3 separate regions of the Homo sapiens genome follow, and all the other regions are linked to region 3. Evidence: fine-mapped QTL for protein levels in blood plasma. A gene starts in region 3. Each other region holds a variant in brackets. All regions are shown on one strand. Distances are between the middles of the regions.

Region 1 (7,165 bases), 23 kb before region 3:
GCACCGGGGCTAGTGAAGTCTCAAGGGTAGCATGAGGTTCCAAGCTGGGGTTAGTGAAGACGTGGGGACAGAAAGAAGATCAAATATGGGAAGAGAGTCAGAGTCAGGAGAAGATGCAGGGGTCGGGGGAGGGATTAGGGATGGAGTGTGGGCCCAGGAATGGGGATGAAAATGAGGCTGTGTGTTGCACTCATTACTTAGTAATAATAGCAGGGTTTTAAGGCAGCATCAAAATATCCCCACCCCCATGTCAAAAATGCCACATCAAAACCAACACATCAAACTGTCATAGTCACACTGGAGTCACGGTAATACTTTGAAGCCACCAAGGAAATTCTTCACCCTCACCCCTCTTTTATTCCATTTCCCAAAGCCCCATGTTCTTCAGACTTATAAAGGCCTGAAAGAAGGGGTTTGCTCTCTCCACCTCCATACAGTACTGGGGGAATGTGCTCCCATTGGGCCCAACTGAATCTGAAGTTCCTGTAATCCAATTTTTTACATGATTTTATCATTTTAATTAAGCTCAGTCAAACATGGCTTCTAACCAGCAATTTTTCTTTCTTTCTTTCTTTTTTAACAGAGTCTCCCTCTGTCACCCAGGCTGGAGTGCAATGGAGCAATCATAGCTCACGGCAGCCTCGAACTCCTGGGCTCAAACAATCCTCCTGCCTTAGCCTCTTGAGTAGCTAAGATTACAGGCATACACAACACCCAGCTAATTATTTTATTTGTTGTAGAGACGAAGTCCCCTTATGTTGCCCAGTCTGGTCTCGAACTCCTGGGCTCAAGTGATCCTCCCACCTCAACCTCCCAAAATGCTGGGATTACAGGTATGAGCCACAGAGCCAGCTCAGAATCATTCTTTTTAGCTCTGGGATTCCTCAAAAACCCAATGCCTGCCAAGGAATGTTCTATCATAAACACTGTGCTCCAAGGATGCTGTGGCATTTTTAGGTCTTTACTTGGCTTTTGCAACCTTTTCCTTGGAAGCGGAGCCTACAGCTACAGTGCTAGGGAAATTGCCCAGACTAACCATGCCATGCAGTTGGCTGGTGCCTCTCGCTCCAGGTGGGTGCGGGGTCGATG[C/G]CATCTTTGCAGCTAAGTGTCGAGACCCATAGAGAGAATCTTGAGGAGACCAGTGAAGAAAAGCCTCTTCACCATCAAAGAAGATCAGCTGGAGTGACAAATCTGGCTTGGAGTCTGAAACAGTCTGGTAAAAACAACAATAAAAACATAGCAAAAAAATACTGTGATGATGAAAAATAGCATGATTTTCTATTAATTGGGCAAAAAGATAGATGTGCCATAAAGAAAGGAAGATACCAAAGCAAGTGAAACTATGGCAAAATTTATTCCACACCACTTCCTCTTCAAAAGTCATCACACCTCCCACAGTCTTCACCCATATAAACCACCTTCTTCCATTCCCTCTGAAAATAGAAGTCTTTTATATTTTTTCTTACTCCTCACAGAATTTTGAAACAATGAAAGTGCTGTGATGAATCGTGTGATACACCACCCACTTCCCATACAGGAGGGTGTGTTGCCTCAGCTGCTGGAAGAGCCGTCAGTCACTTTAGGAATTGCCTCAGCTGCACCTCCTGGGAGTGTCCCACATCCAGTGCTGACCTACACGGGTACGGGGGGCTCTCTAAAGAGCCATCATATCTCCAGAGCTCCGCAGGGGTTGGCTGAGGCCGTTGTTGAACCTGCACTGCAGCTCGACTTCTTCCTCCGTCCAACACCATTTCTTTCCCCTCCCTGATACCTGTGTTGATCCAAGGCCACTCCCTAATAAGTGACCTGAATACTAAACTCCATGTCAGAGGGCGCTTCTTGGGGAATCCAACCTGAAACAACTGTAAATCTTTCTTGCTTCTCACCTTATTTACATCTTCAATTTTGTACTGAGTCTAGCTTCAAGAGTCTGCCCTAGGAATGCTACAGACACGAAGAATAATAATTATAGCCCTTCCCTTGAAATAGCCTATACTTTAGTTGGGTTGGGGAGAGATAAAACAAATACATAAGCATGGCAAAATGTGCCACCAGCCACAAATGTAACATTAAAGTCCTCTAGAAATTGGATAGAATGAGAAGCAAAATCCTGGGGGTGTCAAGGAGGGCTTTATGAAAAAGACAGTATTTGAATGGAACTAAAAAGAGTGACTAGGATTCTAACTGATTTTACACTTTCCTCCGTCTGACAATAACCCCTGTCTTTCAGATTGGTCCTGGTACTCTAAACTCCAAAGTCCTTCAATCCCACTGGAACCCCTAATCTACTGAATGTTTCACCTTTTCATGGTCCTTCACCCCCATAATGTCCTCACTTCACTCTATATTTGGCTTAAATTCCAGTCAATCATGCCAATCACTCACTAGCATACACCCTCAACTCCCTTGCCCCTTTCTGCCTTTGTCAAACTTTCATGGCAAAAACATACTCTACCTACTTTGTGCCAGCACTCGTGCAGCTAAACCTCACCAGAGAAAAAAATATATAACCACACTGTCTGGCCTTGCTTAAAGTTCATGACCACAAACCTCACATTGGCCTTTCATGTTGACTGGCAAGTCATTTGTATTTTCTTAGTTCAGTCACTCTGGCACTCTTCTAGGATTTCACATTCCTCCTCTCCCTGCCACCTCACCCATCTTCATTCCCAACCGATGACCTTGATTTCTTTCTGTCATGCTCATATCAGATGCCAGTCTCCCTGCTTATGCACAAAATCCTATCCTCTCTCATCTGCTCAAGGACATTGCTCTAGCAAATACCATTTCTCTCCTACATCATCAATTTTTCTATCTCTGCTGGATAATTCCCATCGGCCAACAAACATGCTGTTGCTTTTCTCATCTTAAAATATTTGACCTCACTATCTCCACCATCTACTGCCCAATTTTGTAATCCCATTTATAGCAAAACCCCTTGAAGGAGTTGTCTATTCACGCTGTCTCCAATCCCACTTCTTAAACTTAGCCCAGTTGGGTTTTATCTCCACCGTGTACTGAAACTGCTCTTGTCAAGACACCAATGACTCTACATGGCTACATCCAGTGGTCAACTCTCAGTCTTCATCTCTCTTGACTTATTGTCAGCATTCAACACAGTTAATTACTCCCTCCTGGCTACACTTGCTTCATTTGGTTCCTAAGATACCATATTCCTCCTACCTTAGCACTAATGGCTCCCTTCATCTCCCTTCCCTCTTCACACTAGAGAGCCTCAGGGGCTTGCTCCATGGTTCTCTTCTCTTCTCTGTCCACACTCACTCACTGTCTTGATATCTCTTCTTGAGGCTTTAAATCATATATGTGTGGGTATGTGTGTGTTGTCTTGTGTGTGTGTGTGTGTGTGCTGTGTTGTGTGTGTATTGTTATATATATAAAATTTTTAATATAATTATTTTAAAATAATAATAATAATAATAATATTGTAGAGGCGGAGCCTTAGTATGTTGCCCAGGCTGGTCTCTCTATATATACATATTATATGTTATATTATATTGTATTATATTATAATAATACACACACACAACACAACACACACATACATGTAAATATCAATTCCAAAAAATATATCTCCAGCCCTGACTTCACTGCCGATCTCCAGACTACAATTTCAGTTGCCAAATGAAGATCTCCACATAGACGTTAATAGACACCTCGAACAAAGTGTCAAAACTCATCTCCTGAGGTTCCCCCGGAAATCTGTATTACCAACAGTCTCTTCAACCAAATGGATGGCAAAACCCCCCTTGCAGTTACTCAGACCAAAAACCAGTGGGGATCTGTCTCTTTCTGTCCTTTTCCATGTACACAAACATCGCAATCCAGTTCGTCCTGCCTCTGCAAACCTGTTTCCCACCATTCCTCACCACAGGCCTCTCTTTCATTTGCTTTGTTTTCTTTGAGCCTAATATGTCTTCACCATTATGTGGTCAAGCGTTCCAGACACTATCACACCTTTATTTCTCATGTCTGTCTGGTTTTGTTTTTTAAGAATGGGCCCTTCCGGAGCCCTCTGCTGCCTGCTCCAGCCTGGACCGACCACTAGGCCTGCTGCCTATCTGTTTGTTATCTTGGGGCTCCCCTCACCATCAACCTGCAGATTTCTGCCTCTCCTATATGGGACCCCCAGTGAGCTGAACTCCATGACTCCCTCATCCTTGATTTCTTTCTTGATTTTTCTGGAGCACAGCTTTAAGCAACTTCTAGGGCAAAAATACAGTACATGGGAGTGAAAATTGTTGAGATTTACCTCTGAAAATGTCTTCATTCTATTTTCCTATTTAATTTTTCTGGGTCTGAAGATTCTGGGTTGCAAATTATTTTTATTTAAAATATTTAAGGCATAATTTCATTGTTTTCTAGCTCCCAAAGTTTCTATTGAGAAGTCCAGTGCCATTCTCATTCCCAATACTTTTTATATGACCTAACTGGAATTGTTACAATTATTCTCCAAAAGTCATAATCGTCTCCTTTTTGTCATTCCTCTTCTAAAAAAAGATACTTCTTCTACTTTAGGATCCAACTGTTTTATTGATTTATTTATTTTGAAAATAGAAATTTTAATTTCCAAAAGCTCCTCCTTATTGACCAATTGTTCTGTTATTGCAGCATTCTGGTTTTGTTTCATAGATATAATGTCTCCTCTTATCTCTGTAAGAATATTAGAACAGTGTCCTTTAAGTCATTTTCTGCTCTATTTCCTCCCACTTCATTTTAAATTTGTATGATTTGTTTTGCTTTCTATTTTTTTTTTTTTTTTTTTTTACATTTTAAAAAAGTATTTATTTATTTAAGAGACAGGGTCTCACTCTGTTGCCCAGGCTGGAGTGCAGTGGCTCAATTATAGTGCATTGCAGCCTTGAACTCCTGGGCTCAAGCAATCCTCCTGCCTCAGCCTCCCAAGTAGCTAGGATTACAGGTGTGTACCACCATAACCAGCTAATTTTTTTTTTTTTTTTTTTTTTGTAGAGAGGGAGCCTCACTATGTTGCCCAGGCTGGTCTCAAACTCTTGGCCTCAAGCAATCCTCCCACCTCGGCCTCCCAAAGTGCTAGGATTACAGACATGAGCCACTGCTCCAGGCCCTTTCTTTCATGCTGGAGTCTGTCCTCAAATGTCTGGTCATCCTTTGTGTTCATTCATGTTAAAGAATAAGATATTAAAATGCTGGTTGGAGACACAGATTGGTTGGCTTCACTGCAAGGCAATCTGGTGCCCAGCCAGTGTTTTCACTGAGGATTACTGAATGTCACCATCTGGGATTTTTCTGCGGGGTGGTTCACACGGTCTGAAGAAGAATCCTCCAGTTTCCTATCTGATGGCTTTCTGGTGCTGAAGATGGGAGAGAAACTATAGATCTCACTGTTCAATGTGTAGGCTTTCGCCTAATCTCCCCGATTTCCATGGGGTGCCCCACTGTCACCCTCCTGTATACTTGCTATTCTCAATTCCATAACCTCCCTGGTTCAATTTCTCCAGAAAAATATTTTCTCATCTGTGGCAAAGGCACAAGGGGGCACTCACTTACCTGCCTGGTGTGGGGTGGGAATCTCTACATCCACATATTCCTTAGACAGACTTAGAAACACTCTCCACACCAGCCCCTTCCTCACCTCTGCCTTCCTCAGCTTATCACATCTCTAATTCCTGAGCCTTTTTAGGATTCTATCAAGGAAACCACTGGCTTCTTCCATTTCTTCCCTCTCCAGGACAGTGTGACTTCTCTCCACTCTGATATGTCATCTGCCATTTCTCCATCCAACTTCTGTCTTCATATTGTGGTTCCTATTCACAGATGTTCTCTACTTTCTTCAAAAAATGGAGTTTCCCTGATTGTTTTAACGGTGATTTCAAAAGAGAAAAAAATTGTCTTTATCATCTGAAAACTAACTTAATTTTGTACGCTAATCATTTCATATTGCTCCTTAATTATACCATGAGGAAAGGACAGTGTAATTTGATTTGAATCCTCCATAACTCCTGGAGAGCATTAAGCAGAGGATGTGTTTGTGCAATATAAATGCACTCAGGGTTTAATAAGCATTAAATAATTAAACAGATTTTCTCGTTGGCAAAAATTGTAAGGTGCTTGCTTCAGTAGAGACATTCTAAGCTTCCAGTTGTTTAAAGGGCCTTGAAAGTTCTAGCTTCAAATCAGACAACATAATCGCAGAACAAGAGGGCAGAACGGGACCGGTTGGGACAAGAGGCATTCTGCTCATGCCCAGGGCATAGGCAAACGGAAATAGTTTTTATCTCTTGCAGGCTTGACAGTTCAAGTACCTCAGTGAAACTTCAACAGCTGGGAGACTCCAATGATCAGTACAACGATTTGCTTTCATTCTGTTCGCCTAATATCCATTCATTTAGCCAGCAATAAACTGTTGTGGACATTCATCCTGAGTCCCATGAGGCAACCTGCTCTTTTTGCTTCATTTCAGGAATGGCAGAAAAATAGCCATGGCCTTCGTTACTAGTAACTCAGCCTAGTACCTTGGAGCTAGGAGAATCTGACTGGCCTGATGTATGAAGGTCTTCATGGTAACACTACAAATGCCTAATTACCAGCGTTCACACAGTCTGGGTTATCTGCAGTCCTTCCCCATTCAAGGCTGTATCAGTTAGCTAATGTTGCAATAATAGAATAGAATAACACCCCATCAACACAGTGGCTTAAAATACCATTATGTATCTTCTTGGGATACATAACCTCTGCTGGTCAGCTAGGGAGCAGCTGATCTAGAATGGGTTTGGCTGGGGCAGCTCTGCTTCACTGTGCAGTCAGCAAGGTTGGTTCTGCTCCAGGTGTCTCATCCTTCTGCTGGGACTGGCAGGCTAGCCAGGGCATGCCATTCTCATGGTTATGGCAAAGACACGGAAGAGCAAGCCCAATGGCACAAGCACACTTCCAGCCCCTGTTTGTGTCACCTCTACTAACATCCCATTGGCTAAGGCAAGTCAAATAATGAAGTCCAGAGTGAAGGGATGAGGAAGTACAACTGGCTACAGTGGGAGGGCACAGCAAAGTTACCAGGCAAAGGATGTGGATGTGTAATGACAGTCCTATTACTGGAGAGAAGTGGAGCTATGAAGAGTTGCGAATAATCCAGTCTACTTATCAAGCACTCTTTCAGGTCACTTTCCAC
Region 2 (6,274 bases), 31 kb before region 3:
GAAGCTTCATGAAATAAACTGCTTAAGGATTTGAAGTTGGAGCTGAAAACATGGGCTGCTTTGTTCTTAATGACAACTGCTTTGCCATCTAAAACATTTCTCCTTTTTGAAGGATCTGTCTTTTCTCTTCCAGCCACAACCCTCGAGCTACAATAACAGGCTCATGATTTTTTTAGATGCCAAGGTTATGAATACTCTTTTATGAATATTTTCCTTTGAACTCATTTCTCTTGAAGAAGAAAAATAGCCCTACATATTGCAGGATTGACAATAACAGACAAAACGTACAAATTGTTCTCTTAGGGGCAGTAAAATGCTCCAAAATGCACATAGAAAAATTCCAAATGCAACCTGATGTTTATGGAGCACTGCCTTTGCAGCTATAATTTTTAGAAAGTAATATTTCTGACTGACATGAATTATACAGAGCATATTTCAGAGACTAATATCAGGTTAATGCCTTAAAATGTCTCCGTTTATGACATCATGGCTGCTTTTCCTATATCAGTGCAAACTCTTAGTGAGTAGAATTTGAGGATATGTCTTTTCAAAGGAAGAAAACCTTCACTGAATTAAGCTGCTTATGGTTTTATTTTTTCTTTTATCCCATTTCAACATATCCACCAACCTCCTCTAAAAATAATTCAACTAATGTGAACTCAACAGATTATAGTAGATCTCTTATTAATTTCATTTTGCCTCCAAAGGAGCTTATCATTTAGGCTTATAATTATGTATGCAGTACTGTCGACTAATGTTTAGGTTCCTCATTAAAACTTCATTTCATTCTGTTTTAATATCATCAGTCTGTTAGACCATTTATTTTCTCATGTTAAAAAATATGTGTTTTCCCTGAACTCTTTCCATATGTTTTCTCTCATCCAAAAAATCCAGAAAACTCAGCTCCCTTTAATCCTGCTTTGTGGCTTAGATACTTTAGCCTGGAACCACTCGTGTTGATTTGTATATACCCACACTTACGCAAAAATAGCCTTCACTACGGCAGAGTAATCATTCTGCATAGAAATTATGTGTCTCTGAAGCCTATGTTGTCAGGTGAATCGTGGCAGCAATGACCTAAGAATGCATCCCCAGTTTGAAATGACCTATAAAAATTTCAAGATACAACTATTGCTTTGCATTTGGCATCGGGAATATTCTGTATAGTTCTTTTCATGTAAATGGGCAATATTCTAGAATGGTTCCCAAGTATAAGCTTTAGAGCTAGACTTCTTGGGTACAACTCCCACTATTACCACTTACTAGTTATGTAATATTGGAAAATACACTTAACTACTCTGAGCATCATAAAGTAAGCTTACTAACACCTACCTCACACAATTGTTGTGGGGATTAAGTTAGTAAAACATATAAAGCATATGTGACTCTGTCTGGCACAGAGTTAGCACTCAGTCTAAGTGTTAGCTCTTAATATCATTAATTCACAAACACACGACTTTCATTTACATGACTTTGGAAGGACATTTAGAAAATAAAAAAGAATCCTAGAAAAATCTAATTCTGTAAAATTTACCAACATGAAATTATAGACAGGTAATGTTATATATAAGTATATATAAATGTAATATATATTTATCTATAAATGTTATATATAGCATAGAAAATACCTAAGTATACATATATAATTCTGGCTATATTCTATATAATTTACATAGTCAAATTGATGAAATTATTTTTATCCTTTTCTTACCTGAAAACTATGTTTTAGCAAGTAAATTACTTTCCCAATGACTTCCATTGTCATTCGGCACATTAATTCACTGAGTATTTACTAAATGTCTTGTCCGAACAGGGAACACACAGAAGACAGTGGCCCCAACTAACTTCATCTGTATGCCAGGAACGATTTCCTAATTATTTAATTGATCAAGTTTGTATTTCTAGATAATTGTTTCCTATAGCTAAAGACAACTTATGAATGCCTATGTATTTCCAGAAAAAAATGCTCTAAGTAACTAACCGAACGAATACCATATAATCTATCTACACAAAAATTGTCACAACTACTGCAGTACTACTGTGTTACCTTAATGTTGACTCTAGAGTTCACATTCAGCAGTCTTTTTCTGTCCTCACCTCAATCCAAAACCAAAACAGCAAATATATGCCTGGTAATCACATAGTTTAACAGGAAAAAACAGGCCAAAAAATTGTAATACAGTTTGATTATACCTTTATAAGAAAAATCTGCATTTAAGAAATGTGAGGAGGCTGGATGCAGTGGCTCGTGCCTATAATCCCAGCACTTTGGGAGGCCAAGACAGGAACAATGCTTGAGCCCAGGAGTTCAAGACCAGCTTGGGCAAAATGGAGAAACCACATCCATACAAAAATACCAAAAAAATTAGCCAGGCAAAAAAATTAGCTAGGTAGTGCATGCCTGTAGTCCCAATCACTCGTAGGGTGGAGGTGAGAGGATCGCTTGAGCCGAGGAGGTCAAGACTGCAGTGAGCCATGATCATGCCACTGCACTCCAGCCTGAGCAACAGAGTGAGACCCTGTCTCAAAAAAAAAAAGAAAAAGTGAGGAAAAACTAAAAAGCGAACTAATGGTGATTCTGTTAATATAATGGGATTATAGTTTTCTTCTTTTCTCCATTTTCCAAAATGTTTGTTATTGACTATTATTTTTACAATGAGAACGTTAAATTTGCAAAATCCTATAAAAATTGGACTATGCATTAAATTATATCACTATTTTTATATATAAAAAAGACATCACAACATAGCATTTAATTCTGATTTTAATTTCCATAAAATTAACTCTACAAAGATTTCTCAAAGAAATCTGACCGCCTTCAAACTACATGTTTGTTTTGTATTACATGTAATAGATTTCCACATATGAAAAAATCATAAAATGAAGGCTACGTTTTCCAACCGCTATTTAAGTACTGTTGAGAAACTATCGTTGAATGAATGAACCTGATTTTGCCTCATCGTGTTTATCTAAAAGAGTCTTTGAAAGATATTTATTTTCCATTTTCTTTACACGGTCCCTCTTTTTCAATCTGTAAATAAAAATTAATGAGCAATTTAGGACACAATATCACAACACAATTATTCTGTAATTGATCTGATAACCAAAGACACATAAGAATAGGATGATCTATAGGATAGATGTTTCCACACAGCATTTGTCTGAAATCAGATTATTTTAAATGATGCCTTGACTTTTGAATTCAATTCTAGAACCAATTATCCTAAACTAAATCAGAGTATTACAAA[T/G]GAAGATATTCCAACACAAAGACTTGTAGGATTTTGTTTAGATTGTCAATGGTTGATTCATCCAAATTTTCTTCATTGTCATCCATGGTGTGCCAGACTTCAGGGAAAGGAGACGGTATCAGATGCAGAACTGGAACACCTATTAAGAAAGAACCAACTTGTAACAATGTGCATTACTCCAGTGAGTAAACTAGAAAGGGTCATTCTTCAAGCAGAGGGAGCTCTGTACCACATAAAGACAGCTGATAATTCATCATCATCTGTGTACTTTCTCATATCCCACCGTTGTACTCCAAAATCAGGCTGTGCACGCACACACACACAAACACACACACACACACACATTACCTCTTCTTAAAAATGGAATATGGTCATCCTGAATCACACCTCCATAACTGTAATTCTGGAAATACCGCCCCTCCAAAGAGTGATCCTTGAGCAAACCCAATTCATGAAGTTCATGTTCTGTAGATGACAATTATACAGTAAATGAACAACTATTTTTATCTTATCAAGACTCATAATGTATCCTTATTTAAGGAGTTTGAAATCTTAGCACATGTGTCCATAATTTGTAAAAGATTATGCAACAGCAAGCATGGCCACACCCATGACAATAAACATCTGGGTTGAACAGGGATGTGTACACTTTGGAGCAGGAAGAGAGAAGAGTCAAATGTGGCTCTAAACTTACAGGTGAGAACCTCCTTAGAGGTAGAAACTCCACAGAACAGTGAAGAGATAGAGAATGAAAAAAACAGAGGACAGGTGGGTGGAAGGGGACAACACAGGTGCAGGTGTAGATGCTTATAGGTCCAAGATGCTGCATGAAGAATGCCTTAGATGAGATATGGGGCTTAAAAGGGGAATACTCAAACAGAGTAGAGATGAAGTATATCAAGTGGCCACTCTATGGGAAAGAGATACCTAGTGTGACCTACATCAGTGGTTCTCAAAGTGTGATGTCTGACCAGCAACATCAGCAACACCTAGGAACGTGTCAGAAATGCAAATTATCTGGTCCCATCTCAGACTTACAGAAATTCTGGGGCTGGAGTCCAGCAATCTGTGTGGAAGAAGCCCTCCAGGTGATTCTGATGCACTTTAAAGTTTGAGAACCACTGGCCTACATAAGTCATGTATTGTATGTTACAAGATGACAAGAGATTACATGAATATTATAAGACAACCAAATGAAACTTCCTAGGATAGCTAGGAACTAGCTAAGGTAAAACTAAACCAACTAGTAATCAATCATATGTAATATGATTCTAGAAACATTGAGAAAGCCCTAACTACCACCAAAAACAATATTCTTGTCTGTTTATTGATACTTATAATTCCTTTACCATGAGACACAACTTTTTCTTTTTTTTTTTTTTTTTTTTTGAGATGGAGTCTCGCTGTCGCCCAGGCTGGAGTGCAGTGGCGCCACCTCAGCTCACTGCTTTCTCTTATACAACTAGAGATATGGTTTGAAATGTAAATACCAATAGGAGGGGCACAATGGGTTAAAATTGAATGAAGGTGCAAGTTATTGGCATAAGTTCATTCTGGTACAGGACATAATAAAAGTGCACAAAATCCTTGAAAGAAAGCCAAACTCAGTTTCTCAAGGCTACCATCAAAGTAAGGAAAATATGCTGCAAGGAAGAAGCCCAAGAAGTTTATATTAATAACACCATTAGAGTAACTCTTTCAAACTAGGAAATGAAATTTGTCAATGACATGCACCTAAAGTTCAAGCAGAAGTTTCTCTAAGATTCTAGACAAATTCTTTACTCATGGCAAAAGTGTGAGTTATGATGGCAGTGTTTTTCCCACTGTTAGAAGTAATACAAGTCTATCTTGCTCCAAGAAGTTTGTGTGGCTAGTAAGGAATTTCTAGCATGAAATTCTTGCCTTCAAAGCAGCCCCCTGGCCTGGATTCTACAATAAAGATCAATCTCATTTTCATCTTTCCCTGATGCCTGCCAAGAGTTTGCTTTGTTTTGTTTTGTTTTGTTTTGGGTAGGGTGGTAGTACAAAGTTATTCTCCTTTTCTTTCTCCAAGCCCCAAGCTCCCCTCTTCAGCCATAGATACGTATGTTTCTTGGGCTGGCCTGACCTGACCTGGTCTGGCCTAGTCAACTCCCATTTATTTGACTCTAAATCTCAAAGGATCTGGCTTTCTCTTTATCCTGATCTCTTGCTTCTTTGGAAAATTGGCAGAGACTGTACTAGATTTAAAGGAAAATAATATCTGGATAAGGTAGAAAATAGAAGATGGCAAAGACAGAGATGGAAAAGAAAAACTGAAGAATATCTTTTGGTATCATTATAAGGACATCATATTCATCATTAGCCAGCATGCTTTGTTGAGTAAACTTTTCTCTCGAAACGCATTCTACCTGCTTCAAACAGGACTCTGGGAAAATATTTTCAAATATTTTCAAACCATTTTTAAGGATGTGCAAACATGAAATGTAGTATTTTATGTTTCCATTTCAAAATATAGTTTCATGCAGGAAAATAAACTGGGCTTACTACAAAGATGAAAAGAATAATAAACTAATCAATTAAGCAAGAAAAAAAGCCAATAAAGTATATTACACATTTAAATCATATACTTAAATTATAATTTTTTTTTCTTTTTTGAGATGGCGCCTCACCCTGTCACCCAGGCTGGAGTGCAATGGCACCATCTTGGCTCACTGCAACTTCTGCTTCCCAGGTTCAAGTGATTCTCATGCCTCAGCCTATCAAGTAGCTGGGATTACAGGTGCCCGCCACCACACCCAGCTAATTTTTGTATTTATTTTGTATTTGTTTAGTGAAACCCCGTCTCTACTAAACATGAAAGCCCTGTTTCATGTTGGCCAGGCTGGTCTCAAACTCCTGACCCTAGCTGATCTGCCTGCCTTGGCCTCCCAAAGTGCTAGGATTACAGGTGTGAGCCACTGCGCCCAGCCAAATTATAAATTTTAAATGTTAAAAATGTAGTATCTGTCAGTAGCAAGAAATGATGTTTTATTCATTAATAACAG
Region 3 (7,164 bases):
CCATTCTCCTGCCTCAGCCTCCCGAGTAGCTGGGATTACAGGTGCGTGCCACCACGCCCGGCTGATTTTTTGTATTTTTTAGTAGAGACAGGGTTTCACCATGTTAGCCCTGATGGTCTCGATCTCCTGACCTCGTGATCCACCCGCCTCGGCCTCCCAAAGTGCTGGGATTACAGGCGTGAGCCACCCCGCCCGGCCGAACCCATACACTTCTTACAGAGGGAACTTGCAAATCACTTTTATCCTAAGTTCCTTATATGCGATTTCTACCTACAACTAGATCCATTTTCTCTGAAAATAGCAGGTACCCTCTTTTAAGTGGAGGAAAAAGGCTTTTGAAGTAAGCAGGTCTCCAGTAAAGGTCCTTCCTGCCGAGTTGCTCCTTTTAAAAATCTAAAACAAACAACACACATCCGTCCTGAGACTGTAGGGACACTTCAGCGCCCCAGCAGCATCCTTGGATGAAGCAGCGGGGGGGCTGTGGGCACACCCCCAGGCGCACCCCGCACCCTAGCGGCCCCGGAGCGCCGGCCCCGTTGCCCTCCAGGGTCCCGAGTGGGGGGTGGCGCCGCGATGCGCCCTCGCCTCCCGGCTCAGCAGCCGCCGGCGAGACACATTTCCTGTGCCTATCAGCACCCCCATCAGACCGCAGCCCAGGAGAGGCCAGTGACATCACCCAGCCCCCCTGGCGTCTCCAGAACAGCCCCGGACTGGCCGAGGCACCCCGGCGAGTATGCAGAGCCCCGACTCCTCCGGGCGCCGGGTGGGGCGCCGGTGCCTGGGCTGGGGACCGTGGCCCTGCCCCGCCTCCCGCTCTGCCTAGGTAGGGCTGACCCGGCCAGGGGTCCTCGCATCGGACCAGAGCCGCTCAAGTACAACTACGCAGAAACAGCCCCTCACCTTCTCCTCTGGCCAGGCTGAGGCACTCGGACTGACCCCCCTGGATGCCCAGGGCAGGGCGGCCACCAGCAGCAGCAGGTGGAGGGTGCCCACGACGCGCCGGTGTCTTCCGCCTGCCATCTCTCCGAGTCTGTCTGGGAGCGGGTTCCCCGGGCCGCTGGCGGTCACGAGCCCGGGAACGCGCGTCCTTCGCCTTCCCTCTTCTCCACCCTTGGGTCGACTGCGCCCGCCTTCCCATCGCCCCCGGGTAGCCTCCCGCCGCGTCGCGCAGGCTGCAGCCCTCCTACCCCGGACCTTCGCAAACCCCGGGGCTGGGCGGCCCTGGGTGACAGACACAAGCTTCTGAACCCAAGCTAACAAAGGCGGCCACTTCCTTCTCTTGGAGAAGATGAAAGGAAGGAAGCAAGAGACATGGAAGAGCCTTTTTATGATCTCCAATGCCAAAACAGGGAACAGAAAAGGGAGGAAGGGTTCACCAGACCCTGGGGAGTTATGAAGTGTTTCCCACAGCTCCTAAAGAAGGGGTGGACAGGGAATCGACGTCTGCTGAACACGGCACCAGGCACCGTCCTAGGTGCTTGTCCAACCTTCCCGGATTTAATCCACTAATCCCATTTTACAGACGGGGAGACTGAGACACCCCCCCACCCCCCATAGAAAGCCTGGACTGGAACCCACAAGCAAAAGTATGACAGTGGATCTTTGCCTTTTCTCTTTTTTCTCACAAATAGTTGCCTTGCCTCACATCATACTCTCAAATTGAAAAGGATGGTCAAAGTAATTATCTGAAATAATGAGATCTACAATATTCACAGCGGCTCTGAAGGAGTCATCTTCTCCAAGGCATGGCCCCAAAAGGAAAAGCCAAACACAATTCTATTTACTTTGTAACATCAAAGGTCATTGTTATCCAGATAATCCTAGGGCAGGAAAACATTTCAGTTTTGTCTGTAGGTTTCTGGTCCAAGTTGTCAGGACAGTGACTTTCACCAGCCTCTTTTGCTTCCACAGTGAGGATCAGGGCTTGGCCTGCTCTGAGTCATCTCCCAGTAACATCTAGTTCCCAGAAAAATCAGAACAAGGATACTGAAGCAGAACCATTTCACAGAGAGCAAAGATTTGAAGGTAAGGAAGCTGCCAGAAGGCCCACCCACTCACTCTGTCTTCCCAGCCTTGGCTATGAGTTTTTAAAGAGAGGGCTTGCCTGGAAATACACTGTTCTGCCCTCCTCTGGAGCTGTAGGAGAAGACAGGATGTAAATAACTCCTTTCCTGGTGTACAGATTTGCTAACCCTATTCATGTCTGAGAGTTTTGAGTGACAATTTAAATCTCCAGGCTTAAATAAAATTAAATACACCTTTATTAAACCCACAGACAGTTCTGATCATCGGACCCCCTTCAGAACTTTCTACTGGCTCCAGTTTCAGAACTAAACCACTGTCACATTCCCCAATACAGCTCCTCTCTTGCTGCCTGGGTCAACCTTGAAATAGTGCATTTCCTGAGTGGCTGGGTAATAAAGAGCCTATTTGCTTTTTTTTACCCTATTACCTTTATGTCTTTTCACAATATGGTTCCTATAAGAAAGAGAACGTGGAAATAGCAAACCTAAATGAAACAAAATGTGAGAGGTACTATCATGCTAAGTATGAGCAATTCAAAACAAGAAATATAGAAATAAGCTAAAATGTCAGCACATAACGTAATGATGATTTTGTTTCCTAAGTTTCTCCAATTTTGGTTATATTTAAGTCAATAAGATGTTCTTACAGTTTGGTATCTACAGGAAGCAGACTCTGAGACAAGAGTTTAACATGCAGGATGTGTATTAGGGAGTGCCCTTGGGACAAACCCCTGTGGGAGGAAGAAGGGGAACAGGAGAGAACAGAGGGAGAAGTTAGCAGCAAAGCGGGCCCAACAACCTCACCCAACTCCATGGGAGTCCTGAAGCTGAAAAAGACGGTCAAAGTTGTCCCATACTGGGCCAAAATGTCTGGGGCCTTATCTCTGCACCTCCATGGAGTGATTTCCTGCAAGCGGCTTTCCAGCCAAAAGAGCTTGACTGCTAGAGGCTGTGGGCCAGCCGGCCTCCAACAGCTGGAGCAGGGTCCTTCCCTGGGGGCAGATCTGGGCAGCGCATCTCCTGTATCCACCACAAACGTATTGTATCTGGTACAAATCTAAAACATTCCACATAGCTAGTGAGACTGATTTCAATACATTGGTTTTTTTTTTACATGTAAGCTTTTCTGCCAACTTTCCAAGAATCTACAAATCCAACACCACTATGTATGTATCACTTCATTCCTTATGCATATCTTTTCTAGTGTCTTACACACTAAATACCCTTTTCCTTTCCTTCGCTCATTCTTTTCTCTCTTCCTTCATTTGGGAAACGTTTAGAAATACCTTATATCTGCTATTTTTGCCCTACTTCAACTTTTCCTTTCTTCAAACTCTTCCCATGGAAGATAACTAATGACTTTTCCATTTTAATTAAAGTTTCAGACCCTGTTTTTCATCATGGAAAAAATGTGTTGTATATACAGTGATAACACTGTTCTCAAGTGGAGAAATTTTTACCTCCATTATAGTATAGATTCCATACTGTGATGTGAAGGAAATGAAGGACCCAATTGCCAAAACAGATCTTCTCCATGAAGCTGCCATGGCAGGATGTTCCTACACCCAGTCCCACCTTTAAAGTGGCGCCATTAGATCAAAGTAGTAATGACCAGAAGGTTCTATTAAAACAATAGTTTTCAAAAGTGTGGTCCATGGATACTGGGGATTCCCCAAGACCCTCTTGGCTGTCTCCAAAGTCAAATCAACTTTTATAATAATACCAAAACAAGATTCATTTTTTCTACTGTATAGACTTTGCACTGATGTTGCAAAAGCAATGATGGGTAAAAATGCTGGCACCTTAGCAACTGTCAATACAGGACACAAAACTGTACTATTGAGGAGGAAAATCTATACTTGTAGTCATTGTGTTTTTCTTTCTTTCTTTCTTTTTGGAAGGAGTTTCACTCTTATTTCCCAGGCTAGAGTGCCATGGTGCCATCTCGGCTCACTACAACCTCTGCCTCCCAGGTTCAAGCGATTCTCCTATCTCAGCCTCCTGAGGAGATGGGATTACAGGCATGCACCACCATACCCTGCTAATTTTTGTATTTTTAGTAGAGACAGGGTTTCACCATGTTGGTCAGACTGGTCTCGAACTCCTGACCTCAGGTGATCTACCTGCCTCGGCCTCCCAAAGTGCTGGGATTGCAGACGTAAGCCACCATACCCAGCCATCTTAGTATTTTTCACTGCCACGCATAAAGAAAAAAAAAAAGAAGAGGACGATAAAAGAAAAGAAAAAGAGCCAGTTTCACTTAAGAATGTCATTGATGAAGTAATAAAATTGTTGTTTTACTGCCTTCTGAAGCTGTCTCTCCATGAAGCTAGATTTTAAATCTAGCAGGACAGAGTACAGGAGGAGAGAGAGCTCCTCACGTCTGCGTTTTCATCTCATGGAGACCACCAGCTCTGTGTGGACTCCTCCTACCTGCACTGCATCCTGGAAACTCTCAAAGCAGTAAGCTGGAGAAAACATCAGGCTCATCTCATTTCATTTTCCCTTTTCTCACCACTTTCCTGTGATACCTCTTTTCCAATATTTAAGCATCATTTTAAAAATTTTTATACACTTAGAGAGTACAGGAGCAGTTTTGGTACATGGATATACTGCATAGTGGACAAGTCTGGGCTTTTAGTGTAAGCATCACCTGAAAACATAGTATACATTTACCCATCAGGTAATTTCTCATCCCTCCTACCCTCCCACCCTTCCAAGTCTCCAATGTCTATTATTCAGCTCTTCATGTCATTGTGTACACATTATTTAGCTTCCACTTATAAGTGAGAACATGTGCTAGTTGAGCTGTTTCACTAAAGATAATGGCCTCCAGTTCCATCCATGTTGTTACAAAAGACAAAATTTTGTTATTTTTAATTGCTGGTAGTATTCCAGGGTGTGTGTGTGTGTGTGCGTGTGTGTGTGTGTGTGTGTGTGTGTGTGTGTGACGTTTTCTTTATCCAATCCATTGTGAATGTCATTTTTAATATATTTTAGGTGGGATGACAAATCCAGTTCCATCTTAACTGGAAGCACAAATTGAGAGTATGCAGCTCTTTATACTCACATGGGAAAATAAGACGTAGAAATCAAACACTTCTGCTGCACACCAAAGGGCAATTGTCTCAAAGAAAAGCATTTGTACCGTTGTTTCAGAAGTATAGTGGGCCGCAGTGGCTCACATCTGTAATCCCAACATTTTGGGAGGACAAAGCAGGTGGATCACTTGAGGTTAGGAGTTCAAGACCAGCCTGGCCAACAGGATAAAACCCCCATCTCTACTAAAAATACAAAAATTAGCTGGGAATGGTGGCAGGTGCCTGTAGTCACAGCTACTCCAGAGACTGAGGAAGGAGAATCACTTGAACCTGGGAAACAGAGTTTGCAGTGAGCAGAGATCACACCACTGCACTCCAGCCTGTGTGACAGAGAGAGACAGTCTCAAAAAAAGAAAAAGAGAGAGAGAGAGAAGCATAGTGAACTTGCTACTTTTTTCATGAAATTCCAATTTAATTGAAAGAACAATGACTGATAAATTATGATTATTCAGACTTGGATATTTGGCAGACATTTGAAGATGAATAAAGTGCGCCTATCCCTTGAAGGAAAATAACTGACACTGTTTGTTGCCAGTGATAAAACTGGATCTTTGCAGTAAAAATTGGAATTTTGGATAACTTGTATCTGCTACCATAAGCTTGATAGTTTCCTGATATGCAACAACTTTTATGACAAAATTGGTGATTTTAACAAATGTGATTATTTATTATATATAATGAAATGCTCAACATTTGGAATATCTGCATAACTCAGTGAAGCAATATTTTCCAAATGTTCAATTCATCATGTTACAAAGTCACAAAGAAAAGTTCCACTCAAAGTATAAGAGACACCCAGTGGATTTTAATGTAATGGAATAAAAACATGTATTTAGAAGCAGATTTTAAGTTGTACCTTTTATGACACTATCATTTGTTATGTTTTGATTTAATAATGAAGGAGATTATCCACAGTTATCTGAAGAGGCTATTAAAATACTCTTCCTTTTTCCTACTACATGTCCGTGTGGGGTCAAATTTTCTTCATGTACTTCAGCCAAAATAATATATCACAACAGGTGGAATGCATAAGCAAATATGGGAATCCAGTTGTCATCTAAAAAGTCAGAAATTAAAGAGATTTTTTTAAATGCCAATCTTCTCACTAAACTCTTTTTACTTTGGAAAATGTATTTTTTCATAAAACATGTGTCTTTAGATGCAATGACTTTATTCTTTTAAAATAAATCCATAATTAAGTATTTGTAAAATGCCTGTTCTAATTTTCAATACAATAAATATTGATAGACATGGTCCACATAAATGAAAGCTATTTGTGGTCCTCAATTACTGTTACTAATGCAAGGAGTTCTGAGACCAAAACATTAGAGAATCACTATGTTAAAACCATTCTACTTGAGAGAGACAGATGATAATACATTAAACCAATGCTTACAACTGTAGCTACACATGGAAATTATCTAGAAAGCCTTTTTTAGAAAATGGTGATGTCTGACTTCCACCCCCAGAGATTCTGATATGATTAGCCTGGTGTGTGGTCTGGGCGTCAGATCGCTTAAAAGCTCCCCAGGTGATTCTAACGTGCAGCCACGGCTGAGAATCATTGCATGAAGTCACACACTTTGAGAAATACATCAGCAAAAATCATATAATCAGATTAACTATAACATTAATAGTCATGTTGCATTGTAGTTATTTCATAAGGCCCTGAGGATAATAGCAAAAAAGATTGGGAAAGTGGCCCAGCCTTAGACAAATTATGAAGTAGGCAGCTTAAATTCAAACCCCCCAACTTTCTGGCCCCATGCAAGTCTAGTACTGAAGCACCCTGCCTTTTGTTCCTTTAATAGTCACAGAATGTAAAGAGTCCTACATTATATTCTTGTTTGAATCTGTCCGCCACCTCTTTCGATAGCAGAGTGAAAAATTAAAATATTTGCCTCTGCAGTCCAGTGTCAGATTTTTAGTGTTCCTTAGAAATCTCAGGAATCCAGATTTCCTGTAAATATTCCCAACTTCTTTCACCAGATCAGAGGTCGGGTGAAGGTGGCAATAAAAGCTAGGAGAAAAAAAACGTT

What was found. PIP is the chance, under the fine-mapping model, that this variant and not a neighbour inherited with it causes the effect. The UK Biobank Pharma Proteomics Project read protein levels with antibody pairs (Olink). The fine-mapping took linkage between variants from a reference panel, not from the people measured, so its PIPs are less certain.
Region 1: its variant is fine-mapped to the plasma level of the QPCT protein (UK Biobank, PIP above 0.99). The variant lies in the coding sequence of QPCT. If it changes the protein, the assay may bind it differently, which can mimic a change of level.
Region 2: its variant is fine-mapped to the plasma level of the QPCT protein (UK Biobank, PIP above 0.99). The variant lies in the coding sequence of QPCT. If it changes the protein, the assay may bind it differently, which can mimic a change of level.

Annotation. Positions count from the first base shown.
Region 1 is chr2:37,361,280-37,368,444 of GRCh38, reverse strand. It overlaps QPCT (glutaminyl-peptide cyclotransferase), which reads right to left. Exons shown (of 7, transcript NM_012413.4): 4 at 1,037-1,213. Among named protein-coding and RNA genes, the nearest start is that of QPCT, 20 kb to the right of the region's middle. The variant C/G (reference allele first, on the strand shown) is at 1,090.
Region 2 is chr2:37,369,795-37,376,068 of GRCh38, reverse strand. It overlaps QPCT (glutaminyl-peptide cyclotransferase), which reads right to left. Exons shown (of 7, transcript NM_012413.4): 6 at 3,597-3,713; 7 at 2,747-3,387. The coding sequence ends at 3,242. It overlaps LOC107985868 (a long non-coding RNA gene), which reads left to right. Exons shown (of 3, transcript XR_001739403.3): 3 at 1-797. Among named protein-coding and RNA genes, the nearest start is that of QPCT, 28 kb to the right of the region's middle. The variant T/G (reference allele first, on the strand shown) is at 3,249.
Region 3 is chr2:37,338,588-37,345,751 of GRCh38, reverse strand. QPCT (glutaminyl-peptide cyclotransferase) reads right to left here and starts at 1,122. Exons shown (of 7, transcript NM_012413.4): 1 at 901-1,122. The coding sequence starts at 1,020. It overlaps LOC124907754 (a long non-coding RNA gene), which reads left to right and starts at 697. Exons shown (of 2, transcript XR_007086284.1): 1 at 697-2,025; 2 at 5,025-6,336. RefSeq lists a silencer at 692-751.